Linked DNA regions of Homo sapiens. The protein of the gene in region 1 interacts with the protein of each later gene in a biochemical or structural test. Each region holds a gene or a part of one and is shown in the gene's direction. Other genes may lie near its edges.

Region 1 (6,347 bases):
AATATTGTTGAACTACTTTCCACTGGGCAGAGCCATAGTATGACCTGGCCATTGTGCACAGAAGAGTCCAAATTTATGTACCATACATGAAATTAAGAAGCCAGCAACTACCTGTAAATGTCACGTAACACCCAAGGAGACTGTGTTACTTATCTGCTCACCAGTGGGAGGAGAAGATTGTCTGTCTCAGCTTTGTTAACCAGCTTTCTTGGGATTTCTCCATAGGCAATGGTGGCTTGCTATCCGGGAAATGGAACAGGTTATGTTCGCCACGTGGACAACCCCAACGGTGATGGTCGCTGCATCACCTGCATCTACTATCTGAACAAGAATTGGGATGCCAAGGTACTTTTGAATAATGGGAGTAGAGTGTGGGGTTAGAAACTACAGGAAAATGATTCAGATAACTTAGAGGAGAGTTTATATTGAGTTCATAGTTGCCGTATCTCCCACTGATGAAACATTTCTATTTCCATTTCATAACCTCCTGCGACAATGGAATTAGTCCTAAAGTTGTTAAGAAGAAAACAATGAAGTTAATTTGGAGTGGGGTAGGTAGGGTGATTATTAACCCTACCTCTGGGAAGGGTGGTTGATGAAGGGAAGGTAATTTGATATTAGGATTAAGGATTAATTTTTTTCAGTTTAATTCAGAGTTGTTCTGACTCAATGCAGAATAGGATATACACTTTTCCCTCCCAGCAGCAGCATTGAGAAAGTTCCACAAAAATAGAACTGTAGGCTATAAAACCATCCCCAAGAGAGATTTCCCACACAGTCCTCTCCCTCGGGGTGGTATGTCTCATTGATGGCTGCTTGCCATGGCTTACTATGGTTTGTGAATGCCAAAGGCTTTGTGGCTTATTTTTGTATTATAGAACTTATAGATAGATGGAGATATGAAGCCTGGTTCCATGCTTACAGACATTCATCTGGACTCTGTATGCTTTCCGAAAGTTAAGAATGATTTAGGAGTCTGGGAAGTCAGATAACTTTTCAAGCTTATTTGGCTTTTGAACCTTCTGCATCTCAATTTCCTGTTCATTAGGCAAATACTGGCTGTCATAAAGCAATAATATTTATCCAGAGTCAGAAAAACGAAACTTGGGAAACCATTGAATCAGTGAAAAGGCCTATCTCTTCTCCCTGTTTGGTAACATGACTGGAATACATCCATTAAGTCTCCTTTAAAATCTTGAGAGGTGCTGATAGAGACAAGAGAATAAAGTTATCAGACTGGTAATAATAAATTGCAAGGTCTGGAATCATTTAACAAATATTTGAGTTCCTGCTAGTGTCAGGCGTTGTATTATGAAGAAACATTGATGTGTGAGGCCTGAACTTTACTCTGAATATGGTTATTCTAGTAGGATGAAATAGGTTGACATGTAAAAAAAATAATTCAAGGAAGAGAGTGGTGTATGTCATAAAAGGTGCAGATTAGGTGGTCTGAGAGTTCAGTAAAAAGAGCATGTAACTTCCAACTAATGAGGTCAGATAGGAGCTAAGGGAGTTCAGAAGAGCTGTAAATTCTAATTGAAGGGGAAGTTACATGTGATGATTTTCTTAGAAAGTTGTTAATGGTTAGATGGAACCATGTGAGATCACTGGGCATTTTTTTTTAAGTCAAAAACACTCAAATATTGGCAAATCGGTATGATTCAATCTAATAGTACTCTATTTTACGTCCATGGGCTTTATGACTGTGGGGGGTGGGAGTGCTTTTTTTGGTTTAAGGTGAATAAGGAGATATCTCTAGCTAAGTTTGATATAAAATTTGGTACGAAGTGGCTGGGCGTGGTGGCTCATGCCTATAATCCCAGCACTTCAGGAGGCCCTAGTGGGCGGATCACCTGAGGTCGGGAGTTCGAGACCAGCCTGACCAACATGGGGAAACCCCGTCTCTACTAAAAATACAAAATTAACTGGGCATGGTGGTGCATGCCTCTAATCCCAGCTACTCGGGAGGCTGAGGCAAGAGAATCACTTGAACCAGGGAGGTGGAAGTGGCAGTGAAACGAGATCGTGCCATTGCACTCCAGCCTGGGCAACAAGAGTGAAACTCCATCTCAAATTGGTACAAACTATGAGGTTGAAGTAAAAATCTGGGGTACCATGCATTTGGAGTGGTGGTTAGCAGATGGCATGTTTCTAAATGGAGCTGAAATATGGTTGTTGATAAACTACATGAGAGGTAAGAAATAATCCCCCTTCTTTGTGTCTTTCAGCTACATGGTGGGATCCTGCGGATATTTCCAGAGGGGAAATCATTCATAGCAGATGTGGAGCCCATTTTTGACAGACTCCTGTTCTTCTGGTCAGATCGTAGGAACCCACACGAAGTGCAGCCCTCTTACGCAACCAGGTAATAGCCGGAGCCATGATTCCTCTTCCGGAGCTTGGTGTACAAACCCTAGTTCCAGAGAACTCTTTAAACGTGTGTCCTGTGCATGTGGGGGATTGACCACACCCCATAGCTGATAGCAAACTTGTTTGGAGTCTACAAAAATTAAAGGGGAAACTTTGCGTTCTTTAGCATATCAAACCTAACCTCAGTTTGAAAGTACTATTAACAAGTTGTTTTCTATTAGATGAGCATATTGGATTCCAATTTCTCAAAAGTATTTTTCTCTTCTCTCCTTTCCTCCCTTCTCTTATCTCTCTTTCCCTTTTTTTAAAAAACCTAATGTTGAACTATGCCTAGAGAATGTTGGCTGTCACATATCAGGAATTCTGTCTGGTTACTTTGGATGAGTTTACAAGCTGCTAATTGCAAGCAGAGAAAGAGCCTTGAGAAGAGAAAGAGTAATTTGTTTTGACTTTCTCTTTTTGTCTTTTCCTTGGTTTGAAATTGGCTTGGGCTTGCTGTATCCATGGTCCAACAGTTGGATGTTTTATTAATCTTTTCTTTATCATGTGCACATGAAGATTCTCAGAGTAACTGAACACCTTAGTATTGTTTAGGACCAATCTAGACAATCTTGACAAAAAATCTTCATTCTCAATTCTGCCTCTCATTTACCTTTGTCTGTGTCTAAAGCAATAAGCCGGGCAGCATTGGAGGGCTATGGAGTGCAGCTTATACTGAGACTAGCATTCAGGGGCAGGAGGAGAGAATTTTGGTAGGATGATGATTAAACCCTAACAAGCCTAATTAAATTAAGATCACATGTGCCCTCCTCCGGAAGTCACACAGCTTAGCCCCAAACCCAGTTATATATTAACTGCCAAATCGGAATGTCTTCTAGATGAGCAGGGAACGAATTCTACCACTGAAGTCAGCTTTTGTGTTTTATGGGGTATGTAACTAAACCCTGTTGTTTGTGGCAGAAGTCTTTGGTTATTCCCCAATCTCATGATGACTGGCCTTACAGGGAAAACATTAGCAAATGTTGATGAGAAGTCCCTTGAAAAAAACTCAAGTGCTATAGAAATTGTTAGCTACGGAAGTAGCTAACAATCATTACAAAATGAAACTTTAAAAAAAAACCAAGCATGAAATGGCTCCCATTACAGTCTATCCAATGAATGGGATAAAGCAAATTAGTGGGGATGCAGTAGAAAGCTCTGGGGCATTATTATTATTCAATTGCAATTTTGCCTCAATGTCCAAAACTAAAGAAAGCAAGCCAAGAGTTTTAAACATACTGTGATTTACATAAGTCGTTTTTCAAAGCTTCACTCAAATGTCATCTCTTCTCTATGTTCTCGCCACCAACTTGGGTCTCCCAGTCTTTAGCAGAATGACTCCCTTCTAGTCCTTTCTGTAGAGGCTATGTTTACCTGTTGCATTATTGCAAAATCACCTGTCTCCCCTACTTGGAGCCTGAGATCGCAGAGGAAGATCTGATCACAGGGTCATTTGAATTCCTAATGCCCAAGATAATTTCTGGCACATACCTGGAATTCCTTATGCATTTTATTACATTGAAATAGAATTAAAACCAGAGAAGTTAATTTTAAATTAAAATCAGCGTAGACAGGCCGGGCATGGTGGCTCACACCTGCAATCCCAGCACTTTGGGAGGCCGAGGTGGGCAGGTCAAGAGATCGAGACCATCCTGGCCAACATGGTGAAACCCCATCTCTACTAAAAATTTAAAAATTAGCTGGGTGTGGTAGCGTGCACCTGTAGTCCCAGCTACTTGGGAAGCTGAGGCAGGAGAATCGCTTGAACCTGGGAAGTGGAGGTTGCAGTGAGCCGAGATCACGCCTCTGCCTGGCAACAGAGCAAGACTCCATCTCAAAAAATAAATAAATAAATAAATAAATAAATAAATAAATAAATCAGGGTAGACTTCTAATAATAGAGAAAACTTTAAAACTTTTAATGTGAGATTTATAGGACATTTGTGTTTCTAGTAGTACCATTAAATCTCTTTCCTTATATCTGCTTATCTTTCACAGATATGCTATGACTGTCTGGTACTTTGATGCTGAAGAAAGGGCAGAAGCCAAAAAGAAATTCAGGAATTTAACTAGTATGTGTTTGATAATTTTCTGTGACTTTTGATCAAGTTAATCCTTGACTTTTATTCAATTTTATGTAGTTTTAAACATGTTCTGTTCAATCTGTTACGGCTTAGCTTTATATATAATGACATCTTGATGGGTTTTATCCTGAAACCTTGGCCTTAGGGCTCTTAGAAAAATCAGAAACAATGCAAGGGGCTTCCCCTGAGAATGCCCACTGAATGTATGATGGTTTATGATAGATGGGAAATAGTTAACTTTTTCCTATTAATGTTAACCAGTCAAATGTAACATTAAATTTTGCCCATGATTTTTGGCATATTGCAAAGGAAATATAATGGAACCCAGTTATGATGGCAAAATTTATTATATTGGGTGAGACTGTGACTCTCAGTATAACAGCAGGGCTCATGTAATATAAACTGAATATAACAGCACTACTCCTATCCCTTCCAACCAGTATTAGAAGGCAGCATTTCCCAAAATACGTTGCATTAAAACACAAATCCTGCCAATTTGGTAAATTCCTGGTCCCAAAAATGTGGGAAATGTTGCATGCTGTATGCCTGTCTTAAAAAGAGTCACATTGCTCACTAGCATATTAAATTAAGGCGCTAAGAGATCCTGCAGTAAGGAAACATATATAATATTGCCTAGCCCATAACCCATTTGGACTGTATACCTCTCAAATACCAAAGTGGTCTCCAAATTGCACCCAGGAAATCTCAGTTTGTTTTCTCTTCCAGATGGCCTACACTGCTTAACTCTGATATGTGAGTGAGGCTACACTTCATACAACTTATGCTCAGCATTAGCCCAAGAGGTGCCAATGCTGGATGTAAACCCAAAGTTCCTCCACAGTCTGTGAGGCATATGGGAAAGATCCCATTGCAAAGTCAAGAGAGAATCCTTTGGCAGAGCTCTATTAGGAGGCTTATATAAGATGGGAAGTGTTTACTGGAGGCTTTTTGGTGACATTTGTGACATAAAACTCATCAGAGCTGACTCCATACCCTCTTTATTCTCCTTTCTGTCCCCAACCCAGGGAAAACTGAATCTGCCCTCACTGAAGACTGACCGTGCTCTGAAATCTGCTGGCCTTGTTCATTTTAGTAACGGTTCCTGAATTCTCTTAAATTCTTTGAGATCCAAAGATGGCCTCTTCAGTGACAACAATCTCCCTGCTACTTCTTGCATCCTTCACATCCCTGTCTTGTGTGTGGTACTTCATGTTTTCTTGCCAAGACTGTGTTGATCTTCAGATACTCTCTTTGCCAGATGAAGTTACTTGCTAACTCCAGAAATTCCTGCAGACATCCTACTCGGCCAGCGGTTTACCTGATAGATTCGGTAATACTATCAAGAGAAGAGCCTAGGAGCACAGCGAGGGAATGAACCTTACTTGCACTTTATGTATACTTCCTGATTTGAAAGGAGGAGGTTTGAAAAGAAAAAAATGGAGGTGGTAGATGCCACAGAGAGGCATCACGGAAGCCTTAACAGCAGGAAACAGAGAAATTTGTGTCATCTGAACAATTTCCAGATGTTCTTAATCCAGGGCTGTTGGGGTTTCTGGAGAATTATCACAACCTAATGACATTAATACCTCTAGAAAGGGCTGCTGTCATAGTGAACAATTTATAAGTGTCCCATGGGGCAGACACTCCTTTTTTCCCAGTCCTGCAACCTGGATTTTCTGCCTCAGCCCCATTTTGCTGAAAATAATGACTTTCTGAATAAAGATGGCAACACAATTTTTTCTCCATTTTCAGTTCTTACCTGGGAACCTAATTCCCCAGAAGCTAAAAAACTAGACATTAGTTGTTTTGGTTGCTTTGTTGGAATGGAATTTAAATTTAAATGAAAGGAAAAAT
Region 2 (6,347 bases), on another chromosome or scaffold:
ATGTGTTTGTGCCTTCCTCATGAGCCAGGGAAAGGCTGGGGTTACCACCGGGGCACGGCTTCTGAGGAGGGTGAGAGAAGGAGGCTGTTATCTTCCTATGGCAAGTCTGCCATGTGGACCCATTCTGTGGAAATGTACTGTGTCATTTATCTTAGTTTTTGTGTTTTTCCTGCATACACTGCACTGTGTCGTTTATTTTAGTTTTTGCATTTTTCTAGAGGCAGGGTCTTGCTCTGTTGTCCGGGCTAGAGTGCAGTGGCACGATCATGTTTCACCGCAGCCTTGAATTCCTGGGCTCAAGTGATCCTCTCACCTCAGTCTCCCACGTAGCTGGGATGAAGGCATGCGCCACCATGCCTGGCTAATTAAAATTTTTTTTTTTGTAGAGACAGGGTCTTGCTATATTGCCCAGGCTGGTCTCAAACTCTTGGCCTCAAGGGATCCTCCTCCCTCGGCCTCCGAAAGTGCTGGGATTACAGGTGTGAGCCACCATGCCTGGCCTCACTGTGTAGTTGTGAATAGCTTAATAGTTTGCAATGTGGTGCTTCTCACAGCTCTTCTCTGTAATGGGAACATGAAAAATTACCTGGTACAGTTTTATGCTTTGTGGTGTGGCTTTTAATTTTTATAAACATGTCTTACTGCTATTGCCAGGGATTTAGATTTTTAATAAACTTCCAGATTCAACAGTATTTTTCTTCATCTCAATGTCTCATTTTTCATCAAATTTAAACAAAGTTAGATTCTCTGGGCTTGAAACAATTTTGATTCATTTCACTTTAGCTCTGAAGTACTGTTTTGTAAAATGTAGCACAGTGATACTGAACCAAGCTTTTTGAAAGCTTATTCTCTGCAGGGTACATTTAAGAGGACTTGCCTATCAGAATTTTTACATTTCAGTCCCAGAAACTATGTGTAACAATACCTGTTGGATTCTTTAAATCTGGACTTTATTAAGTTGACAGAGGTATTGAAGAATAGATGACCACCCCGAAATGAGGAATAAAGTTTGTTTTGTACAGTTGTTTAAGCATAAAAATAGACAGATATTAATAGTAGTCAGAGTATTCAGTTACCAACCTCTTGTCCCTCCTCACTGAAGATCTGGTGACAACTCTAATCCACGTGGCGTAGAGAGCGGTGCCTTTGGTCTAATCCGAATGCTCCTCCTCTTCACTGGGGGGTTCTGGGGACATCTCACCTGGTTGTGCCCTGGGTTTTGCCCTGAGATGTTAGCCTCCAGCTCTGGGGGCCTTGTCTCAGTCTGGGCATGTGTACTTGCTCAAATTACAGTATCTCAACTTCCATATATTCTGCTTTGGAAAAAACTAACCTACACTTTTATGTATTACATCCTGATACTCTCCAGCAGTCTGTCATATACCAAAACAGGTCTTTTGTGAACCTATCAGTTAACAGACACTTTGAGTTATTGCATGGCCTTGCTCTCTGCCAGCCAGTAGTTCATATTCAACAGCAGTGCCATCCCTGTCTGCAAGGCTGTGTTAGTGCAGCTATTTTTTATACTTCATTTAATTTATTATGCTTTTTCATTTGCTTTGATTTTTAATAAAAGTAAAACAAAAATAAAAGTGCTGATGAGAAGCATTGGTCTTGAAACATTAACACAATTGAGAACAAGATGAAATATAATTTTTTAGGCACATGGAAAGCAGCGAGTCTTTCACCTCATCTGGACATTAATTGGACCTAAGCTGATCTACTCTGTCACTTAGGAAGGAAATGAAAAGTAAGGAACAGTATGATATGTTGGAACCACATGGTCGAAGGCTGGACTTAAAAGAGCAGATGCAAGGAGAGATCTGGCACCACAGATAGAGCATCCCTAATCCCAAAGTCCAAAATCTAAAGGGCTGTAAAATCTGAAGGTTTTTGTACACTGACATGATGCCAGAAGTGGAAAATTCCACACTTAAGTACTTAACACATTGTTCCATGCACAAAATTATTAAGACTATTGTATAAAATTACCATCAGACTATAAAATCATTTATAAAAATTCAGTTGTTTCATATAAGGTATATATGAAACAAATGAATTTTGTGTTTAAGCTTGGGTTCATTAGGAATATGCCAGTATTCCAAAATCCAAAAAAAAAAAAACTGATCCCAAGCATTTTGGATAAGAGATACTCATCATGTATAGCTTAATGTTCTGAGCTGGAACTCCTTTAATAAGGTGGAAGTCAGTTGTTCAGCTCTCAGTTTGACTCTTAAATATGTTTTCAGCAAATGTTCAGCTTAGAGTCTTTGCAGAGAATGTTTGCTTACTCAGTTTCTGTGGAAGGCTTTTCCGTTACCCTGCACAGAGGGCCGTACCCATGACAGCAGATAGGATCGCTGCCTGGGCCTCAGGGGTCTTCCCCTCCCCGGCTTGCCGAGAGGGAGAGAGAGAGAGAGAGAGAGAGAGAGAGAATGAGAGAGAGAGAGAGAGAGAGAGAGAATGAGAGAGAGAGAGAGAGGAGAGAGAATGAGAGAGAGAATGAGAGAGAAACAGAGAGAATGAGAATGGTGGTGGCGGCGACGGCATACAGAGGGTTCATTGTTAAACCTCTGAATGTTACTGCTTTTGACTTTTTAAGTTTTAAACAAGAAACAGGTCATACCATTAACTATCCCTCTGAGTCAGAAAATATAGACCCAAGAGTTGCCTGTTCTAATGTGGCACTACCATAATTTGTTCTAACATTTCCTAATGACTGTCTGTTTCTAATTATTTCATTCAAGATATGCAGTAAGTATCCTTGGGCTACCAGTGAAGTGATACCATTTGTATCTCTTCTTCTGTGCTTTCTCACCACTTGACATTCTTTGCCCATTTTTCTTTTTCTTTTTCTTTTTTTTTTTAGGTAGAGTCTTACTCTGTCACCCAGGTTGGAGTGCAGTGGCCATGATCTCGGCTCACTGCAACCTCTGCCTCCTGGGTTCAAGCAATTCTCCTGCCTCAGCCTCCCGAGTAGCTGGGATTACAGGGGCATGCCACCACACCCAGCTAATTTTTTTGTATTTTTAGTAGATACAGGGTCTCACCATGTTGGCCAAGCTGGTCTTGAACTCCTGACCTCAGGTGATTCGCCCACGTTGGCCTCCCAAAGTGTTGGGATTACAGGCGTGAGCCACCGCGCCCAGCCCCATTTTTCTTCTGCATTGCTTTCTTATTGATTTATAAGAGCTTTTTATCTATTAGGTATCTTTACTCTTTGGTGTATGTGTTGTAGATATTGTTTCCCCACCTCTCTTATCTTTTGGCTTTGTTTATAGTATCTTTTGCCATAAACTTTGAAAACCTTTTAATGTTATTTGCACTGTTCTATTTATACCATGTGACTTTCCTGCATACACTGCTCTTTTTGCTACATGTATCCCATGGTGTTTTGGAGTTTTTGTTGCTAATGTGAATGGGATTTTTTTTCCTTTCCACTGCAACTGGATATAGCTAACATAGAGAAAAGCTATTGACTTGTGTATTCTTGTTCGTTTCCAGACAACTGGCTAAATTTTATCCAGTGTTTAGTCTGTTGAGCTCTCTAGGCTACATCTCCAAATCTATCTCCATCTCTAGTCATAGCATCTCCAAATAAAAATAATTTTATCTCATTTCAGTACTATTTATTTCATTTCTTTCTTTTATAGTGCAGTGAACTAGATGTCTGTCAAAGTTATTCACCCTCTCTTGAGGGTAAAATCATGTCCTTCTTGCCATCTGAGCTGCAGGCGGGTGCCTCCTCATGTGACATCATCACGTTGCCTCCTCACAGCAGAAGCTCTTGGTATCAAATGCTTCCGTAGCCAGTGTTGTGCAGTCTGCTTTCTTCCAACTAGATTCTGAGCTCTTTAAAGTTGGGGATCATGCCCCTTATTTTATGTCCCTCACAGAACCTCCCAGAGAACTGGGCATGTAGTAAGTCTGTGTAGGGCTGTCTGTATGTGTGGGAGGTGTCCCTGTTCTCCTCTTCTGCCTCCCCGCTGCTTCCTGGAAGCCAGTTCTGACCTCTTGGGACTGTCGATCATATGACCATAGGACTCTGTCCCCAAGGGCCCTTCCTCCTTGCCCACCCTATAGAATTTAGATTTTTGAGCCTCTAGACCAAAGAAACTTCCCTTCTCAAAACTTTATTGGCGTCAGCATCACCTGGAGAGTTTGTTAACACAGATCGTGGGGTCATCCCCAGAGACTTGAATCCAGAGGTCTCAGGTGGAGCCCGAGAATTTCACATTTTGAACAAGCTTGTTTGCTGCTGGTCCAGGTAGTATAGTTTGAGAAGCACTGCTCTAGGCTGCAGTTGGTGACCTCATGGATGCAAGGCAAAGAGTGCTTTGCGCAAGTAAGCCAGATTCCTGTGGAAGTTTAAGCCTCACGTAGCAGGGCCCCTGCCCTCCACCCTGAGGTATTGCGCTACAAGTCAGAGTATGTTTCAGGGGCATGCGGCATTTATCTTTTGCAGGATAGGAGATTCTGTCATGAAAAGCATTTTTTAGGCCTAAGAAAAACTCACCCCCCTCTTCCTCAGCCTCTGCGCTTAGATACCTTCATGAAAACAGAATCATCCATCGGGATCTAAAGCCAGAAAACATCGTCCTGCAGCAAGGAGAACAGAGGGTAAGTGACCTCCTGGGACTGGGAAAGCCTCAGGTGGGCGTGCCGGGAAGTGGCCTGGGAGGAAAGGAGCACACTCTGCATATTTGTGTGTATTTGCATTTCCTTGCCTGTGCTTTGATTCTCTGGGAATGCTGTTTGATTTGAAACAAAATTGAGCAAAAAAGTTGTTGCAGATTGAGGCAAGTTTAAATGGATTACATTGTTAGTTGCTCAAGTTGCAGGAATCTGATAAGGAAAATAATGTTTGCCTTCCTACCTCCACCCCTAGCCTCTGGGACTAGCGCTTCTTGGAAGTCGACTTTTTGTTTTCCATTTGCTTTAAGAGCCTCGCCTCTCGACTCTAAATGGAAACCAGTGGTCAGTTGGTTGTGGATGTGGCTGGGAAGAGGCACTGGGAGCTGGCCTCTGCTGCCAAGCCTGGTCCAGCCTATAGTTTCCCCAGAGCTCTTTGTGGCCTCCTCAGTGGCCACCCGGCTCAGACGTGGTGTTGACTGCCCCACAAGCTTGACATTGTGGTCTTTACCCACCCACTCTATGTGTTCAGCTGGGGTGGTGAGCACAGGCTCAGCTGAGTGGAATACAGTGAATGAGTTCTTAGATCACCTAATCCCTTCCCATACAGCTGCCCTTAGCACCTAGGCCTGGCCTGTGACTACCACAGGGCTCGCCCTTGTTCCAGTTCACCCTCACTCCTGTCAGTGGTGCTCAGATTTGAGAACTGAGGGCATTTACTGAGAAGAGGCTGGCCCGGTCCTTCCTGTTTCAAGTCTGGGTTTAGCTGTCTTGAGGGCTGGTGCCTGTTCTGTTCATTCAGCTTCCCTCTGATGATGCGTGGCAGAGTGTGGGAGGACACGTGCCTAGCATTTTTACAATATGCCTTTTCTTTTAGCCCTGAATCTACCGTGTCGAGGGCATTCTTTTGTGTATCTGGTGGCTCTTAGGAGTTTGGGATCTAATAGTACCTGGGAATTCAGAAATACCTCTGCTCTAACACCAGGCAGTCAGAATCCTCGTAGAAGGACATTGTGTTCTTATAACCCTCAGCTTTCTCCTTCCTTTTGTTTTAGTTAATACACAAAATTATTGACCTAGGATATGCCAAGGAGCTGGATCAGGGCAGTCTTTGCACATCATTCGTGGGGACCCTGCAGTACCTGGTAAGAAGTGGGCCTTGCCTGTTTGCCTGTCAGCTCCTCCCTGCTGCTGCATTTGTGGGGCTCCTGTCCTGCCTTGCTCCCAGCACCTGAGTCCCACCGGCTCTCTGAATGTTTTGGAGATGCATGAGGTCACACCCATAACCTGGTCGAGTCAGCATTTTTTGCCACCAGATGCCCTGTGGAGGGATGTGGTCGTCTTCTCTGATGTCCGGAGGGCTCTGCTCATGCGCCTTGCACCATCCCCTAGCCTCTCTGTGCTTCAGTGTCTTCTCTGAAAGGAAAGGGTTTTAAACAGATCCATGCTGGTCTTGAGCGGTCCTCCCACCTCAGCCTCCTGAGCAGCTAGGACTACAGGCAGGAGCCACTGAGCCTGGCCGAGGCCACACTTTCCATGAGGTATTTCAGGGGCCACTGAGTAGGGGTCAGAGCTCTGAGCTCCCCACCCTTTGTTTACGTTATTTGGTCTGAATATTAGGTTTCTGTTTGAGTCACTCATTCATTCAAGCATATTGATGGAGTGTAGTCTGTGTCAGGCACTGTGCTCAGGGCTGGTGATGCAGTGGGGAAAAA
Region 3 (6,347 bases), on another chromosome or scaffold:
TCCTCCCACCTTAGCCTCCCAAAGTGTTTGGTTTATAGGCATGAGCCACTGTGCTTAGCCTGAGTCCCTCTTTTAAACAAACAAAATGGTAAATGGAAAGGAGGAAAGGCTTAAGAAAAAAGATTGAAGCCAGGATTTGTTGTAAGCAAGGAGTAATAAAGGGCAGTTCATTTAGAGAAAGGCATATGACCACCTTTCCCCCTCCAATCAGAATCTAGAAAGTGATTGAGGCCGGGCGCAGTGGCTCACGCCTGTAATCCCAGCACTTTGGGAGGCCGAGGTGGGCGGATCACGAGATCAGGAGATCGAGACCATCCTGGCTAACATGGTGAAACCCCGTCTCTACTAAAAATCGAAGAAGTTAGCCAGGCGTGGTGGTGGGCGCCTGCAGTCCCAGCTACTCGGGAGGCTGAGAGGCAGGAGAATGGCGTGAACCTGGGAGGTGGAGCTTGCAGTGAGCCTAGATAGTGCCACTGCACTCCAGCCTGGGCGACAGAGCAAGACTCTGTCTCAAAAAAAAAAAAAACAAAGCGATTGAGAAAATCAGGTCTGTGTGACCTTAGCAATGAGTTATTTAGCTTGGGCCACTGTTAGCTTAAGTCAATAACTTCAAGTTTGCGTTGTAGTTGGAATCAATAGAGGAAAAGCTCTCAGCATTACCACATATATCAGAATGTGACATTGATTGCCAGACCAGCCTTATCCAAACACAAGTCCTAGGCTTTTTGCCCTGTTTATGAGCTTTATATGCTGAGGGTATTTGATGAGTCTTAGGGAAAAAAGAACAGCCCTGGGGACACAGCTGCTTTTATGATGAGACATGTTTGCACCCATACCTTAATGGGTTTTGGTGGCAATATTCTGAAATTTGCCACCTACATTTCAAAGATTTGCCCTTTGGGTGAATTAGTGCTGTAGTAGAAGTGGGTGGAGGCTGAGGAGGTTGGATTAAGCAGGTAGAGGATTTCTCAGTGCATGGATCGTGCTGAGGATGGAGATAGAGCTCTAAGACATCCACGGGCCTTTCCTGAGTGATCAGCTTTGGCTCCTGGGCAGGGGAATTGGAGCTGGATTCTAGTGTGGGAGCACGCTTGTCATCTTCCTTCTTTTCCCCCAGTACCATGCGGAGACCATCAAGAATGTGCGCACAGCCACGGAAAGCTTTGCTTCTGACCCCATCCTCTACCGGCCCGTTGCTGTGGCTCTAGACACTAAAGGACCTGAGATCCGAACTGGGCTCATCAAGGGCGTGAGTATTCTGCGGAGAGCGAGGGGAAGGCTCAGTAGGCAATATGCCCCAGAGACATGTCCTCCAAAGCGCTGGGTTGCCATGTTTCTTCCCAGTACTATGAAGGACTGCAGAGGAGTTGAGGTCTACAAATGAGGATTTATTCATCACTGTAAACAATGTTGATTTGATCTACTTTGCTAGGAAATGGTACCACAAAGGAACCTTTTTTTTTTACCCTAAAAACCTAAACTTTAGGCTTTCTAACTTGGAGAACCATCTCTTTGTATCTTTTTCCCCATCATTAAGTAGCATAACTGAAACATATTCTTTTCTTGGATTATTTCCGTGAAGTATACAGAGTTAGAGAATAAGAGCAAAAAACTGTATTACTTTTAGCAGTGACTTGAGCATTGTTCCCGGGAGGAAAGAGCTTTTCCATTCCTTCTGAGGTGATGCTGCTACTGGTGTCTCCAGTTTGGACTCTTGCTTACTCTCTTGTCCCTAGAGCGGCACTGCAGAGGTGGAGCTGAAGAAGGGAGCCACTCTCAAAATCACGCTGGATAACGCCTACATGGAAAAGTGTGACGAGAACATCCTGTGGCTGGACTACAAGAACATCTGCAAGGTGGTGGAAGTGGGCAGCAAGATCTACGTGGATGATGGGCTTATTTCTCTCCAGGTGAAGCAGAAAGGTACGTATGGGAGCTGGAGTCCAGTTGTCTAAAACAGTCTTTTGTCTCTAAACTTCCTTGACACAAGGAAGATGGGAAGGTTGGTTGCCTGGCAGTGAGATTGAGTCTGTGTGTTCTCAGGAATCCCTTTTATAACTCATTTATCCTCAAAGATAGGCTTTAATCCAGCATAGTTACATTCTTCTGGTTCTGGAGAACACAGGAACATACATACATATATATATATATATACATATATATATATATATATATATATATATATATATATATATATATTTGTTTCGCTGTGTTTTGTTTTGTTTTCAAGACAGAGTCTCGCTCTGTTGCCCAGGCTGGAGTGCAGTGGCATGATCTTGGCTCACTGCAACCTCTGCCTCCAGAGTTCTAGCTATTCTCCTACCTCAGCCTCCTGAGTAGCTGGGATTACAGGCACCCGCCACCACACCCGGCTAATTTTTTTGTATTTTTAGTAGAGATGGCGTTTTGCCATGTTGGCCAGGCTGGTCTCAAACTCCTGACCTCAGGTGATCTGCCTGCCTTGGCCTCCCAAAGTCAGAACAGTCTTAATTATCCTTATTTATGGGTGAGGAAAGTGAGGTACAGAGAGGTTAAATGGCTTGCCCAGGATTACACAGTGTAGTAGGTTTTCAACTCTGGTAAAACAGCTCCAGCACCCATAATGCACCACTTCCCAGCTCACTGTCCTTGCGGGAAAGGTGCCTGCTTCCTGTTGACCTGTGCCCTCGTGCTCTGCCTCCCCTACTTACCCTTTTTCATACAGGTGCCGACTTCCTGGTGACGGAGGTGGAAAATGGTGGCTCCTTGGGCAGCAAGAAGGGTGTGAACCTTCCTGGGGCTGCTGTGGACTTGCCTGCTGTGTCGGAGAAGGACATCCAGGATCTGAAGTTTGGGGTCGAGCAGGATGTTGATATGGTGTTTGCGTCATTCATCCGCAAGGCATCTGATGTCCATGAAGTTAGGAAGGTCCTGGGAGAGAAGGGAAAGAACATCAAGATTATCAGCAAAATCGAGAATCATGAGGGGGTTCGGAGGCAAGTCCCCGTTGTCCCTGCTCCAGTCCCAGCGCAGCTCTCCGAAGGGCATGGTCCATCCTGTGAATGTCTGATTCCCAGCCCCTAGCCCATCAGAATGTAGACTCCCAAGCCAGTTCCAAACCTGCTGAATCAGAATATCTTAGGAGAGTAGAAGGCATTATGTTTTTTTGTTTTTGTTTTTTTGTTTTTTTTAAAAAAAAGCTTCCCAGGTAATTGAGATGCTGGCAGCTTGACATTGTTCCCTGGGCCTGGGGACCAACATTTGAGAGAACAGGGTCACTGCTCACAGGACCAGGGGCCATGATGTTCTGTTCCTGATCAGAAACACTACCAGTGTTTGCTGGAATGGGGGGACCAGGGGGAAAGATGACAGCAGACACTTAAGAAAGGGCTCTTTTTGGCCCTTCCTGGGGAGCCATGTGGAATTTCAGGGCCTGGTGTCCATGTTAAAGCTTATGGCCTCCTGGTCTTCACTTAGAATGCAGCTGGCTCAGTGATCATGCTAACTCTGGTATGGTCCATTCCACTCTCAGAGGAAGATGTGTGGTTCTTCTCCAGTTTCAGATTGCCCCAACTTAGCTTACCCCCTCCCCAATGCTCACAAAGTAGAGCCCAGTGGGCATGGCCACCATTTTTGGCATCCTGCTAGGAATACAACTCAGCACAACTAAGATGCTAGACACACTCTTGTGGATTAGAAGTGTGTTTGGGGAGGGTGGGGGAGCAACCCTGTGCACCCACTGTAGTGGCCTTACTGTCTGAGCTTTGTGTAGATATCCTCTGTACCAGGCAATTTGGGGTCCTCCCCTTTGCCATCCTGATAAGCCATAGGCTAGCTGAACTTGGCCCTAGGCCAGGCAAAGCCACATTCCCTCTTGCCTTCAGCAGGTTGGAGTGGGCCACCTCAAAGGGCAGTCCTCAAGTGTCCTTGACTAGATGAGGCCATGGGTCTTTGTGGTGGAAGCAGTCATCAGGCCTCAGGTTCCCTGTCTTGAAGTGCTGATTGGAAAATGGAGGCCCTAGAGAGACCCCTAACATGCATGGGATTTGGAGAGGAGACCTTGGGAATGAGCCCATTTGGATTTGCCCTCTCCCCTTTCTTCCGTCAATGAAGCATCCATATTGGTGTTGAAGCCCAGCAGGCAGAATTGTTGGCCCACTCTGGGGGCCTAAGGTAGCTGGACTGCCTTGCCATCTGTGTGCACCCATGATGATATCATGGATGTCTGTCCTGGTACAAGGACATCTAAGTTAGGGAATCCCAGGGAAACTTCTTGTCTACTGCCATACTTGTGGCCTCTGTTCTATATAACCTCTCTCCCCCCAACTTTGTCCATCAGGTTTGATGAAATCCTGGAGGCCAGTGATGGGATCATGGTGGCTCGTGGTGATCTAGGCATTGAGATTCCTGCAGAGAAGGTCTTCCTTGCTCAGAAGATGATGATTGGACGGTGCAACCGAGCTGGGAAGCCTGTCATCTGTGCTACTCAGGCATGTGCCCACCCTTCCCCACATTCTCATGTGCACACTCGCATGTTTGTATGGGAAAGCTCTGGAGGCTGTCTGATCTCTTCCCATGGAATTGTCGCACGTAACACACAGATAATCCCCTTCCCCCATGTACCTACACAAAGCCATACTCTGTGTACCTACTCACTATCCAGAGGATCAGCTTGCTGTCATTTGTCTCTGAAGACAGCTCAAGCTACATCTCACTAATGCTCTGTCCCCTCCCAGATGCTGGAGAGCATGATCAAGAAGCCCCGCCCCACTCGGGCTGAAGGCAGTGATGTGGCCAATGCAGTCCTGGATGGAGCCGACTGCATCATGCTGTCTGGAGAAACAGCCAAAGGGGACTATCCTCTGGAGGCTGTGCGCATGCAGCACCTGGTGAGTTCTGGGGCCTGCCCCATCCCCCAGGGCTTCGGACTGGGCCTGGGATGGATGCAAGCTCTGGTGCAGAGCTTTTTAGGTTTCTCCATCCTCTTATGCACAGCCTTTCATTATCCTCCAAGTTACAGCAGCAAGAGGGTGGGGGTGGAAGTGGAGGTGGCTTTTTTTTTTCTCCTGTTCTGCATTCCTGCCCACACCCCCACCCCTCCATTTCCTTCTGCTCTGGAGGCATCCTCCTTCATTGGACACCACACAGTTTATTTCACTTCTGACTTCAAGGTTGTGAATTCTTCCCATGGCTTAAGTCCTGGGATACTTCTGCAGTGAAAGGAGGTCTTGTACCTCTTCCTCAGAGTCAGAAGTTCTGAGTACCTTTGCCCTATTCTGAAAAGGGCTAGGGGCTCCTGCTCCCAGCTGCCCTCTTCCTTTGGCTTCCAATTCAGTTCCCTCTGCCCCGCATCCTGCAGACAGGCGCTCCCGCAGGGGGCCCTTGTGGACCTGCACTGGAGTCTGTTGCCTTCACTGAGCTGCCTGTGCTGGCCTTGCATGGTGCCTGTAGGGGGATTTGCTTTGCTGTGCCATTGGGGTACAGCTGCTGCTCTTACTCTAGACCAAAAAGTCGGGTTGAGTGACTGGTGGCAGGGCCACAGATAGAGACAGCGGGGAGGGTGGCTGACCCTGGCGGCCCTGGACTGAGCGTCTGGAGGAGTCGTGGAGGCTCTTTCCCTTCTTTCTCCTCTGAGAGCTCGTTCTTCAGGCTCTTCCAGCTTGTCATGTCGAGTGCCTGGCCACTGCTCAGGGTTGGAGGCTCAGTCCCTTTGCCCTGTCTGTTCCAGCTCTGGAGCTAACTCAGGGATCCCTGATCAGGGTTACATAGGTTTGGTAAAATGAGTGCTGGAAATTAACTTTCTCCCAGTAGTCTTAGGTCATGCTCAGTGAACTTAAACTTTATCCAGATATGGTTTTCCTTCAGCCTTTCTATTCCCTTTCTAGCCAGTGAAAGACCCGCTGCCCTTTGACCTCAGCCCCTCCAAGCCCCCAAGTTTAAAACGCCACCCCCTGCCACCAGAAAAAACAGAAAAAAAAAAAAAAAAAAAAAACTAAAACACCCATCTGGTCTGGGCATCTTCCTTTCCTTTTTCACTATGTATCCTGTTACTGGGCTTAAACAGCTTTCAGAGAAGAGATGTCATTTCTATTAAATGCTCTTTCAGTAGCGAACTGAGTTCACACTTGACTAAGGATATTTTCCGGACTGTCTGTCATCAGCATCCTTAGTGGGTTTCCCCATATTTAAATTGGTAGAGGCCAGGGATGGTGGCTCACACCTGTAATCTCAGTACTTTGGGAGGCCAAGGTAGGTGGATTGCTTGAGCTCAGAAGACCAGCCTGGGCAACCTGGTGAAACCCTGTCTCTACTAAAAATTCAAGTTAGCTAGCTGGGCATGGTGATGCACTTCTGTAGTCCCAGCTACT
Region 4 (6,347 bases), on another chromosome or scaffold:
AAAATCGCTTGAACCTGAGGTTGCAGTGAGCCGAGATTGTGCCACTGCACTCCAGCCTGAGTGACAGAGCGAGACTCTGTCATAGAAAAGAGAAAAAAAAAAAAGCAGGCCGGGCGTAGTGGCTCAAGCCTGTAATCCCAGCACTTTGGGAGGCTGAGGTGGGTGGATCACCTGAGGTCAGGAGTTCGAGACCAGCCTGGCCAACATAGGGAAACCCCATCTTTACTGAAAATACAAAAATTAGCCGGGCGTGGTGGCACACTCCTGTAATCCCAGCTACTTGGGAGGCTGAGGCAGGAGAATCGCTTGAACCCAGGAGGCAGAGGTTGCAGTGAACCAAGATTGTGCCATTGCATTCCAGCCTGGGCAACAAGAGCGAAAATCTGTCTCAAAAAAAAAAAAAAAGAAAAGAAAAAAAAATACTGAACTTAAGTTCATGTGTGAGGTAGATATCCTTGAGGTGATTTCAAGAGAGGCTGAGAGAGGATATGTATATATATTCCAGGTAAATGAAACTAGGGCCGCAAAGGGCTGAAGTTGAAGTAATGCTAATGGACATATTCAGGGAACAGCAAATAGTCCAATTGAACAGAATCTTTGGGTATGTTGAGTGAATGATGAGAGAAAAATGAGAATTGAGCTTGATGGTGGAAGCAGAGAATGTCATGCTATAGAGTTAGGTTATAGGCCCTAAAGTCCTGGAAGGTATTTATGCTTTTTGATCTGAGTAGTTACAGGATTGGAGAAGCTGGACTTTAGGAGAATTCTGAAGCACTGAGGATGATGGAGGGGAGGAGGGGAAGAATTCTTTTGTGCTGAGTAGCCGCTATAGCTACCCTATCTAGGAGACACAGGAGCAAAGCCACTCATGTTGTGCTGATATATTGCTGCTAGGGGAGGGGGCTGTCCTTTGTGGTAACTTAAACAAAGCTTCTTAAGGCCTCCTCTCCTTCCAGTTACAGAGGACTCAGGGCTTGGTTGCTGTTTATTGCCCTTCACTGCATGGAATAAGCTCTTTGCCTTCTAGATACTTAGAGGAAGAAGCAGCTGTTTACTATGAATATAAATTCATAGAAATGTGGAGAGACTATATTTGAAGACAGTCTTCTAGTTTTCAGGTGAAATACTGTCTCACTAAAGAAGGTTAATTTTGCCTGCTGCTGTAATAGTCAGTAGTCAGCAAATGTTAAAAGCACTGCAGAATGAAAAACAGGCAAGGATTCATACTAATGAAATCAGTTCTGTTATCTAAGCATTTCCCTAGACTCTAGCCTGTATTTTAAAGTTAAAAGCTGCTTCTAGTTTAATATGTTCTTTTAATTGTTGAATGTTAAAGAATTTTGTATTTTAAGTTACTGGCATGAGATACACAGGTAATGGTTATGGTTATTCTTATCAAATACGGATTAACTGCTTGAAATTATTACGGATAATAAGGTATATATCTAAATAAGTGGGTAATTTGGTGGCCAAACTAAGGTGTAGCACATAGAGAAAAAAAGCTACTTTTTTACCACATTATTCATGAAATTTTCCAAGGTACCCCCTTTACTAAAAATGATTTGCTTATTCTTGAGATACTTCATGGTGAAGTTGTTTTAACTAATTTATTCTGTTAACCTCATTTTCATTTCAGTATCTCTTTATTGGAAATTGTTTTGTAACTGTTTTTGTGATCTTTTTTTTTTTTTTTTTGAAGAGATGAGGTCTTGCTATGTTGTCCAGGCTGGCCTCCAACTCCTGGGCTCTCAAGCAGTCCTAGTGCCACAGCCTCTCAAGTATCTTGTCCTCCTATTTTTGTCTCCTCTTTTAAACTTAAGCATTATGCTTCGGATAGTCTAAAATAATTGATTATATAAAACTGATTCGTTTTGACTCCAGAGTACATTAGGCTAATACTTTCTTATTTGATTTTCCTTTCTAAATAGCCTTGCTTGGCTGGGCACTGTGGCTCACGCCTGTAATCCCAGCACTTTGGGAGGCCGAGGTGGGCAGATCACCTGAGGTCGGGAGTTTGAGACCAGCCTGACCAACATGGAGAAACCCTGTCTCTACTAAAAATACAAAATTAGCCGGGTATGGTGGTGCATGCCTGTAGTCCCAGCTACTCGGGAGTCTGAGGCAGGAGAATTGCTTGAACCTGGGAGGCAGAGGTTGCGGTGAGCTGAGATCGAGCCATTGCACTCCAGCCTGGGCAACAAGAGCGAAACTGTCTCAAAAAAATAATAAATAATAGCCTTGCTTATGCTAATATGATTAATTTACATTTCTTAGTACAGTTTTGTAGTTAAAGTAAACTCCTCATGATAGGCTGTGAGAAGATAATCTTGGATTCAGAAGTTTGTCTAAAAATTCATGGAGGATGAACTTCCTTTGTGCTGGTAAGAGCTGGCTGTAGGGCAGTTGTTTCCAAGTTGTTCCTCTGGCCAGTAGTATCGGTACCACCTGGTAATTTGTTAGAAAGAGATTCTTATCCCTACTACAAATGTGCTGAATAAGAAACTGGGTCTTGGGCCCAGCAGTTTGTTTAACACGTCCTTCAGCTGATTTTGATGCGTGGTAAAGTTTTAGACCATTACTATGGGGTATTATAATAAAAGAGACCCCTTTCTTGATTTCTAGTGAATGGCGTTTGGGACAGTAATTGACTTAGGATTTTTTTTTCTTAATTGACTGGCATGGAAAAGAAATGCTGTTTGTATTCTCAGGTGCAGATTTTGCATCCTGAATGAAAGTAATGGATACTCATAAGTGAGTAATTAAAATAGCATGTAGGAACTTTTATCTTGAAATTTAATTTTCTTTCAGGAGGCAAAACCTTCAACTGAGGACTTGGGGGATAAGAAGGAAGGTGAATATATTAAACTCAAAGTCATTGGACAGGTGAGTTTCATTGTTTTTCTCTTTTGAGTCCCCTTCAATGTGAATACTTTTTCACAGGAAAAAAAATTATTTAAGGCAAATTATTTTAAAATGACTATGTATGCATTTTAATTTACTGTGTATGCATCTGTTAGAGGTAGAAGAGGCCGATACTGTTTTTTAAATTACTCTGCCAGGCAGTTTTAGATCATCTTAATTTTTCCAAATAGGAATGTTTTCTTGGTTAGTGTGCTTCAGGGGCAAATACAGTGAATACTATTAAGTGTTAAGGCTAGGGCCAACCTTAAGTAAAAGGTTTATCAGCCCTTTTCCTGACCCTTTTCTGGCCCCCTATTTCCCTAGACTCTAGTCTGTATCTTTTTTTTTTTTGAGATGGAGTCTTGTTCTGTCACCCAGGCTGGAGTGCAGTGGTGCGATCTCGGCTCACTGCAAGCTCCGCCTGCCGGGTTCACGCCATTCTCCTGCCTCAGCCTCCCAAGTAGCTGGGACTACAGGCGCCCGCCACCATGCCCGGCTAATTTTTTTTGTATTTTTAGTAGAGACGGGGTTTCACTGTGTTAGCCAGGGTGGTCTTGATCTCCTGGCCTCGTGATCCGCCAGCCTCGGCCTCCCAAAGTGCTGGGATTACAGGCGTGAGCCACCGCGCCTGGCTCTAGTCTGTATCTTATTGATTCTGAAATGTTAATTAAGGTTAGCTAACAACCGTTGGAGGAATGAATCTACATAGTTACGTGGGTTTTCTAAAGGACAAAAGACAGAGAATTGGTGGAAGGGTGGACTCGCCCAGGATGGAGTGCAGTGGTATTTCTATTGAAGTGTGACAGTACCATTTCCCTATATTCTCCCAAACATGGGATATTAACAGTCTTTAAATTTTGTTCAAATATGCTAGGTAAAACATTTTTGTTTATTTTTCATTTACCTGATTATTAATAAGGTATAATTTTTTTGGTCTGTTACATTTATATTCTTCTGTTAATTGTGTTCATACCCTTTTCCCATTTTTCTGTGATTATCTTATTTTGAAGACTTTTATTTTTTATTTTCAAAATTTTTTAAATTTAAATTTTATTTTGAAATGGAGTTGTGCTCTTGTTGGCAGGCTGGAGTGCAATGGCGTGATCTTGGCTCACTGCACCCTTCACTCCTGGGTTCAGGTGATTCTCCTGCCTCAGCCTCCCGAGTAGCTGGGACTACAGGTGCCTGCCACGAAGCCTGACTAATTTTTTTAAAAAATATTTTTAGTAGAGACGGGGTTTCCCCATGTTGGCCAGGCTGGTCTCGAACTCCTGACCTCAGGTGATCCCCACCCGTCTCGGCCTCCCAGAGTTCTGGGATTACAGGTGTGAGCCACCATGCCGGCTTTATTTTGAAAACTTTTAAAAGATAAAATTCACATACTATAAAATTCACTATTTTAAAGTATATAATTCAGGGGCTTTAGTATTATTCACAAGTGTGTGCAGCCATCACCACTACTAATTCCAGAACATTTGCATTACCCCAAAAAGACACCCTGTACCCATTAGCAGTCATTCCCCATCCTATTTCCTCCAGCCAGTGACAACCATGATTCTACTTTCTGTCTCTATAGGTTTGCCTTTTGTGGACATTACATATAAATGGAATCATAAGATATATGGCTTTTTTTTTTTTTTTTTTTTTTTGAGGCAAGGGTCTCGCTGTGTCACCCAGGCTGGAGTGCAGTGGCCTGATCTCAACTCACTGCGACCTCAACCTCCTGGGTTCAAGCGACCCTCCTGCCATAGCCTCCTGAGTAGCTGGGATTTCAGGTGTGCACCACCATGCCCAGCTAATTTTTGTATTTTTAGTAGAGATGGGGTTTCGCCATGTTGGCCAGGCTGGTCTCAAACTCCTGACCTCAGATGATCCGCCTACCTCGGCCTCCCACAGTGTTGGGATTACAGGCATGAGCCACCATGCCTAGCTTTGATATGTGACTTTTTATTCTGGTTTGTTTCTTCTTTTCTGCCTTGCTTCCCTGTTCCTCTTCCCCTCCCTCCCCTCCCCCCCTCCCCATCCCCGTCTCCCTCTCCAGGGTTCTCGCTATGTTGCTCAGGCTGGTCTTGAACTCTTGGGCTTAAGTGATTCTCCCTCTTTGGCCTAAAGTTCTGGGATTATAGGTGTGAGCCACTATGCCTGGCCTGGCTTCTTTGTTTTAGCATGTTTTCAAGGTTCATTCATGCTGTAGCATGTATCAGTACTATATTCCTTTTAATGGCTGAATTCTGTTCCATTATATGGGTAGAATATATTTTGTTTTCCATTTATCAGTTGATATTTAGTTTGTCCCCATATTTTGGCTACTATTAATAATGTTGCTGTGAACATTCATGTGTGTTTTTGTATGGACATATGTTTTCAGCTCCCTTGGATATATACCTAGGAGTGGAATTGCTGGGTCTAGTATGCAACTATATGTTTTACTTTTTGAGGAACTGCCAAACTGTTTTCAGCAGTGGCCCTACCATCTTACATTCCTAGCAGCAACATATGAGGGTTTCAGTTTTTCCATATTCTGGTCAACACTTGTAATTATCCGTATTTTTGGTTATAATCCTAGTGGGTGTGAAGTGGTATCTCACTGTGGTTTCAACTTGCTCTTTCCTGATGGCTAATGATGCCAAGCATTTTTTTATGTACTTATTGGCCATTAGTACATCTTCTTTGGAAAAATGAAGTTCTTTAGATCTTTTGCCCATTTTTAAATTGGGTTAGTTGTCTTTTTATTGTTGAGTGGTAATATGTCTTTTATTCTGGGTATTAGACCTTTATCATATATATGATTTGCATGGATTTTCTCCTATCTTTGAGTTGTCTTTTCACTTTCTTGGTTTTATTCTTTGCAGCGTAAAGTTTTTAATTTTGGTAAATTAAGTTCATCTGTTTTTTCTTTTGTTGCTTGTAATTTATCTAAGAAACCATTACCTAATCCAGGGTCACAAAGGTTTACGCTTGTGGTTTAAGAGTTTTAAGGCTGGGCACAATGGCTCACACCTGTAATCTCAGCATTTTGGGAGGCCAAGGTGGGCAGATTGCTTGAGCTCAGGAGCTGGAGACCAGCCTGGGCAACATGGCGAAACCCCATCTCTACAAAAAATATAAAAAATTAGTAGGGCGTGGTGGCACATGCCTGTAGTCCCAGCTACTCAGGAGGCTGAGCAGGGAGAATCACTTGAGCCTGGGAGGTCAAGGCTGCAGTAAGCTGTGATCACGTGACTGTACTCCAGTCTGGGTGACAGAGTGAGACCCTGTCTCAAAAAAAAAAAAAAAAAAGTTTTATGGTTTTATTTATAGTTTTAGCTCTTACATTTAAATCTTTCATCATTTTGAATAATTTTTTATGGGTGTTTGTCCCAGACCATTAGTTGAAAAGACTGTCCTTTTCTCACTGAATTGTTCTGGTATCCTTGTCAAAAAATTGACTATAGATATAAGGGTTT
Region 5 (6,347 bases), on another chromosome or scaffold:
CTCCCCGTCGCGTCCCCCAGTGTGCGCCCACCCCTATCCATCGCGTCCCCCTTTCCATCACACCCCCAGTGTGCGTCCACCCCTCCCCATCACCCCCTCCACGATGTGCGCCCACCCCTCCCCATCACGCCCCCTATAGTGTGTGCCCACCCCTCCCTATCACGCCCCACGGTGTGCGCCCACTTCTCTGCATTGCGCCTCCCCCACCATGCGCGCCCACCCCTCCTTATCCAGCCTTGGGTGGGCTTTAGTCTCCCCCATTGCCATGCTGGGGTGTGCCTCCCTCCAGTCTCAGTCCTGGGGTATGCACCCTGCATTCAGGTGCACTGGCCATTCCTTCTCGGGAGGGTCTGTAGTCGCATTCTCCAGTGTTCATAAAAAGAGAACCTTTCCGAAGCCCTTGGTGTGCACTGTCGGCCTCTATGTTACATCCCAGTGGAAGATGACTAGAGCTGAAGGCTCTGTAAAGAGGCTGTCTCTGATACTGGCCTGGTCCTGGAGGTGACCACCCTCCCTTTACAGATGAGGGTGGAGGCTCAGTGCCAGACACTGGCGGGAAGTGGGATGGAACCGTCAGGAACCATGGTCGCGGCCTCTATGGAAGTCTGCACTCTGCTTGCTGTGGTCAGACTCCAGGGAAACCTGCCCTATCCAGATGGCATTTGGGGTGACCTTTGCTTTTTACATTTTGACTCCAGTGAAGTCAAAGTTCTCCCACTCTGGGGTTGTTTGAATATTTAAATACTTGTTAAAACTAGGTCAAATATAAATGTCCTTTATGTTTTTGTAGGTGGCTTCCTCTTAATGAAGAGTAAATGTAATAAAATACATATGATATTAATTTTCTCAGCAGTATTTACACTTAGCTCTGCCATGTGGTCAATCTCAGGCTCCAGTTCCGTTGAAAACACTTGTTTAATTCCAGAATGACTGAGTGGCTGCCACCTCACAGGCCCCGCTTCTGGTGGGTCCCCTCTGAGCCCATGTGGGAGCAGCTCTGCCCTCTGGGGCTCTGACGAAGGGGAAGAGGTGGACTCTGGGGCCCGGTGGTGCTGGAAAGAAGAGCTTTTAGGTCAGGCAGGAGAATGGTTCTGACTTCCCTGGATAGCTGAGGTGGAGGATTGACTGTAGCAAACTGAGGCCCATGTTTTTAGGGCTTCACTTTTTAACTCACGAGTTCACTTGCTTATTAGGAATTCACCAGGGGTCTGGGACAGATCGTCATTCTGTTTGGAGCAGAGGCACTGTGGCCGGCCCTGCCCTGCCCCAGCCTCTCCCGGGGCTGCAGCCATTCCCCCCGGGGCTGCAGCCATTACCCTGTGGGGGACGTCTGGGCCCTGCATCTGTGCCTTTGAACACACTCATACCTTCCTTCCCTAAAGAAGCCAGTGCATCCTCATGCTTGGGGAAGTGAAGGGGGCTCATGCAGGGGTCCCCACTTCCATCCTGCCTGGAGCTGTTTGCATGCTCTTCCTTCCTAGGCCAGTTGTCTCTGTGCTGGAGGCCACATTCGGGATGGGGAGATGGGGGTGTGCCAGCTCACCACTCAGGCTGCCGCCAAGCCACTGGCATCCCGGGAGTGGGCAGGGGTGTCTGGCCCAAGACTGGAGTCGGGGGGTGAGTGCCGCCCCAGGACACGCACCTTCAGGCTCGCAGCTGGAGCCCCTCACTGCCAAGGCCCCTTGCAGGCCACTCTAGCTCCCTTGACAGAGCACCATGCCTCCCCAGGGTCTCCCCAGGGTGCATACCCCAGGGAAGCAAGCATGGGTGCAGTCCCTGGGTTCACCCTCAGGCGAGCCTTCTACATCCCACTCCCTGTATTTAGGCATCGCTGGGACAGTTGTCCCTCTCCCAGCCAGGGAAGGAAAGGAGAAGTGGAGAGAACAGGCGTGTGATGTACAGTGCTTCCTGAGGGCAGCAGCTCAGCATGGGGTGAAAGGGTACCAGGACGCCCCAGACTTGACTTTCAGAGTGAGCCGGAGGGCCCTGCCTCATTGCTTCACTCACAAACGACTTTATCCCAGCAGTGCAGGCCGGCAGAGGGGTGCCCCACTTTTCGGCTCAGACTGAGCTGCCCCGAAGTTGGCTCCCAGTCTCTTGACATCAGCTTTTTGCCTCAACTCAAAATGCATTTTCAGGCAACAAGACACCCCGATTGTGCCATTGTTGAGTAGCTTCAAGTATGGCATGAATTAAAAAATAAAATAGTACCACCTACTGCCGCTCAGATAGGACAGTTTGAAACCAGAAAGTACTCGGAGGTGGCTTCCCTCACATTTGCTGATGTCAGGGCAGCGAGAAGGAGCCTGGCCGCCTGCTGTGGGGAGTGGCCGTCCTCAGTTGGATTCCCGAAATCACCACTTGAATGTCCCATAGGGTTCCTCTGAGTCACAAATGTTTTCTTCTGTTTTTGGTTTCTTTTACTAGTGCTGTATAGCTGCATGACTTTTGGATATGTGTTTTTACTGGTTTCATAAGAATTTTTTAAAAAAGAGATGGGGTCTTGCTCTGTTGCCCAGACTGGTCTCAAACTCCTGGGCTTACGCCATCCTCCCACGTCAACTCCCAAAGTACTGGGATAACAGGTGTGAGCCACTGTGCCCAGCCCACAAGAATAACTTTAAAATAAAGATGGATTTTCTCTTATTTTTCCCTAGACTTTGTTTTTTTCTTTGAATTAACAATGTCAGAGGACCCTAGGCTTGCATTGTTTTACACATGGATGCTTAACAAGTGGAAGTTAAAAATAAATTCTGTGTAAAAATAAAACCATCACGAGTGACTCTGAATTGCTGGAGAATTTTAAGAATTAGGTTGGTTTTGATGACTTTAAAAAGCCAACAATTACCTAAAGACTTGCCCATTCAAGTCGCGGTTATTTTGAGACACAGTTTTGAGGCCAGTCTCTGGTGTCTTCTGCAGGAGGGTGTGAAGACAGAGAATGACCACATCAACCTGAAGGTGGCCGGGCAGGACGGCTCCGTGGTGCAGTTCAAGATCAAGAGGCACACGCCGCTGAGCAAGCTGATGAAGGCCTACTGCGAGAGGCAGGTGCGGCACCTTGCTCCCCCGCAGAGCCTCCCCGTGTGCGCACTGGTCCTGTGCGTTCCAGGCATCCCCAGAGCACGAGCGTCTCGGGGCTGGACCCAGATGCAGCTGCCCGAGGTGCCCTCTTCGTGGATGGGCAGGCGGGGGCTTGTGCTGTAAAATTAGTCCAGGCTGGGCTTGTCCCCCATGGCCTTTTATAAGGTGGAGGGACCTAGAGGCTCGGAGAAGTGTGGTGGGTTTTTCTTCCTGACAGGGCGGCTGCCCGGGGTGCTGTGTTCTCCATGGGGTACTAACATCTGTGAAGTCTGTGATGCTGAAGGCTCTTGGGGGCCCTGCTCAGGTCTGGCCATTCTGGGGCTGCAGGTGGCGTGTGCCCCACGCCGCTGTCACCCTGTCCTCGCGTATGAGCTGGCCTGACCCTGGAGAGACACTGCCCTCATGTGCGGTGTGGTTTTCCATTTTGTTAGGAAAGGCAAGAAAGCGCGTGATTCTTTCCCCTTCTTCCCCAGTTTCAGGATAATGAGCTGCCCCACTGGCAGTGCCCAGCTGGGTGGATGCCTTCTGGCTGCTGTTTGTGACGTGGTGTGTGTGTGTCTGTTGTTCTTGGTAACGCTGTGGCGGACTCACCCTGGGCCAGGGGGTCCCTCTCTAGGCCACTTTTATGGGCTTTGCCCACCAGCTGCTGCCTGGTGTGTTGGGGGCCCGGCCCTGCAGCCAGGCGCCCTTCCCCAGGGAGCCCTGCTTGCCTGAGTGGGACCTAGAGGCTGCTTTTCTTCAGCCGCTTTGAAAATACAGCAACTCGTTGCCCTTTTATTTTACTCTTTTGCCTGTGGATTTTCAGTTAGATTTCCTCCTCTTTCCCTCCCACTTTGGATACCCTGCTCATAGGGGCAGTCACTGGCGACTGCCTTGCATTCTTTATTGGCAAGCAGCCCCTGACTTCCTTTCTTTGTGTTTGCTGAGGGCAGATCTTATTTTCACCTGCGAAAGGTGAGACTGAGCTTCCAGACACGCAGGTCCCGGTCTTCCCAGCAGAGTGAGTGGCCTGGCGCCGTGTAGGCCCCGTGATCCAGCCTCTGCCTGATGCTGGGCCCTGGCCCTTGCTGGAGTTTGTACTGCCTGGGCTCGTGGCCACTGTGTGTGTGACTTCCCGGGTGCCCATGTTCTCCTCTGCGCTGCGGGATGGCAGGCGTGTGGGGCCGTGTACATGTGGGGGGGGCTCTGCCCTTCCCCCTGCTCTCCCGGAGCTCCCCTCCTGCCCCACCTGCACTGCTGCTTGTGAGGCTGGCTGCTCAGCCGTGGTCCAGGGCCTCCTGTTCAAATCCTTCTAGAAACTTGGGTTCTCTCTTGGGTGTTTCCTGGATTAGTCCTCCTCCCTTTTGTGTTTTGTGGTGGAGCACATCCTCCAGGGTCTTGTCAGAACGGGCACAGAAGGGCAGCGTCTTTGAGACACTGCATGGCTGAACGTGACTTTTGCTTTTATAAACCTTCACACTTCAGTATGTGGCTGCACGTAATATTCTCGGTTGAAACTTTTTTTTCTTTTTTATTTCAGAGGTCAGCCATGAGAATAGCTCCCAATGTTAAAAGTGAAAAGTTCACCAGGCATGGTGGCTTATGCCTGTAATCCCAGCACTTTGGGAGGCTGATGTGGGAGGATCACTTGAGGTCAGGAATTCAAGACTTGAGGTCAGGAGTTCAGTGCCAAGCCTGGGCAACACAGGGAGACCCTGTCTCTACGAAACATTAAAAAAATTAGCCAGGTGTGGTGGTGCAAGCCTATAGTCCCAGCTACTCAGGAGGCTGAGGTGGGAGGATTGTTTGAGCCCAGGAGGTGGAGGCTGCAGGGAGCTGAGGTCATATCACTGCTCCAGCCTGGGTGACAGAGCAAGACCCTGTCTCAAAAAAAAAAAAAAAAAAAAAAAGGTGAGAAGTTCAGTGGATTCTGATTCTCTGTGCTTTGTTTGTAACTTGGTTTTTCCCTGGAAGTATCTGGGACCATATTCTGGCATTCAGTGTTTCCTTATGTGCCTCAGAGGTGGGTGATTTTCTCACTCATGCTGCTGGGCACTTTATGGGTCTGGACGTTTATTTTTATTCAGGAAATATGCCTTATGTTAGTTCTCTGATAATTTGTATCCTTCTCCAGACTCTGTTCCCTCTTTTTGGAGTTCCTGTTCCTCCTGCTGCTCATTGTCCTAGATATTTTAAATTTGATAATTTTTCTCCCATTTTGCTTTGGGCTTTATTGTTGCATTTGGGCTTCTTTCCGGGAGGTCATTTCAACTTTATCTTTCCACTTCCTGTGGACATTCTCATCTCTGTCATGATTTTTAATTTCCAAAAGTTCTTTTTTCTTTCTGTTCTTTGAGTGTTCTTTTTTTCTCAGTAGCAACTTATTTTTTTTGAGACAGGGTCTCACTCTGTCCCCCAAGCTGGAGCGCAGTGGTGTGATCATGGTTCACTGCAGCCTTGAGCCCTGGGGCTCAAGTGATCCTCCCACCTCAGCCTCCCGAGTAGGTGGGACTCCAGGTACACGCCACCACGCCTGGCTCATTTTTTTATTTTGTGGAGATGGGGTCTCCTTATGTGGTCCAGGCTGGTCTGGAATTCCTGGGCTTAAGTGATCCTTCTGCCTCGGTCTCCCAAAGTGCTGGGATTACAGGTGTGAGCCACCGCACCCATCCTCAGTAGCAATTGATTGTTTTCTGAAGGTAGTAGTATTTTTTACTTCCCATAGAATTTGAATCGTGAGTGTAGGTGTGTGTGGTGTGTATGTCCGTGTCTTTGTGCATGTGTGTGTATGTGTGGGTGTGTGCCTGTGTGTGTATGTGTGGGTGTGTGCCTGTGTGTATATGTGGGTGTGTGCATGTGTGTGTATGTGGGTGTGTGCATGTGTGCATTCGTGTGTGTGTATGTGTGGGTGTGTGCGTGTGTGTATGTGGGTGTGTGCGTGTGTGCATATGTGGGTGTGTGCATGTGTGGGTGTGTGCATGGGTGTGTGCATGGGTGTGCATGTGTGGGTGTGTGCATGTGTGTGGGTGTGGGCATGTGTGGGTGTGGGCATGTGTGTGCCTGTGTTGGGAGTGTTCTCCTGCCTCCTTCCTGTCCGTTCTCCTCTGCGCTCCTCCCCTCCTCTCTAGGCTGCTGCACAGTGAGCCTTTCCCTGACTGCTCTCACGCAGGCTGACTTCTGTGCAAGCATGGAGCACCGAGAAGCTGCTGAAAAGCTGTGTACATGGATGGCTGTGCTGCCAGGGCTGTGCATCCACATGGGGTGATCTGTCTGGATTGCAGGTT

The links.
Region 2: the proteins of EGLN3 (region 1) and IKBKB form a complex in vitro, tested with the Homo sapiens proteins (one study listed by BioGRID).
Region 3: the proteins of EGLN3 (region 1) and PKM form a complex in vitro, tested with the Homo sapiens proteins (one study listed by BioGRID).
Region 4: of the proteins of EGLN3 (region 1) and SUMO1, one has a biochemical effect on the other in vitro, tested with the Homo sapiens proteins (one study listed by BioGRID).
Region 5: of the proteins of EGLN3 (region 1) and SUMO3, one has a biochemical effect on the other in vitro, tested with the Homo sapiens proteins (one study listed by BioGRID).

The regions. Positions count from the first base shown.
Region 1 is NC_000014.9:33,925,094-33,931,440, reverse strand, and holds part of EGLN3 (prolyl hydroxylase EGLN3), read left to right. Parts: intron 1-225; coding exon 226-345; intron 346-2,228; coding exon 2,229-2,365; intron 2,366-4,407; coding exon 4,408-4,481; intron 4,482-5,518; coding exon 5,519-5,550; 3' UTR 5,551-6,347. UniProt on the Homo sapiens protein: Prolyl hydroxylase that mediates hydroxylation of proline residues in target proteins, such as PKM, TELO2, ATF4 and HIF1A. Target proteins are preferentially recognized via a LXXLAP motif.
Region 2 is NC_000008.11:42,300,656-42,307,002, forward strand, and holds part of IKBKB (inhibitor of nuclear factor kappa-B kinase subunit beta), read left to right. Parts: exon of another isoform or gene 1-692; intron 693-4,531; coding exon 4,532-4,620; intron 4,621-5,687; coding exon 5,688-5,777; intron 5,778-6,347.
Region 3 is NC_000015.10:72,205,249-72,211,595, reverse strand, and holds part of PKM (pyruvate kinase PKM), read left to right. Parts: intron 1-1,117; coding exon 1,118-1,249; intron 1,250-1,736; coding exon 1,737-1,923; intron 1,924-2,704; coding exon 2,705-2,975; intron 2,976-4,318; coding exon 4,319-4,469; intron 4,470-4,715; coding exon 4,716-4,868; intron 4,869-6,347. UniProt on the Homo sapiens protein: Catalyzes the final rate-limiting step of glycolysis by mediating the transfer of a phosphoryl group from phosphoenolpyruvate (PEP) to ADP, generating ATP.
Region 4 is NC_000002.12:202,216,568-202,222,914, reverse strand, and holds part of SUMO1 (small ubiquitin-related modifier 1 isoform a precursor), read left to right. Parts: intron 1-2,808; coding exon 2,809-2,883; intron 2,884-6,347. UniProt on the Homo sapiens protein: Ubiquitin-like protein that can be covalently attached to proteins as a monomer or a lysine-linked polymer.
Region 5 is NC_000021.9:44,810,680-44,817,026, reverse strand, and holds part of SUMO3 (small ubiquitin-related modifier 3 isoform 1 precursor), read left to right. Parts: intron 1-2,922; coding exon 2,923-3,051; coding exon of another isoform or gene 3,052-3,165; intron 3,166-6,347. UniProt on the Homo sapiens protein: Ubiquitin-like protein which can be covalently attached to target lysines either as a monomer or as a lysine-linked polymer. Does not seem to be involved in protein degradation and may function as an antagonist of ubiquitin in the degradation process.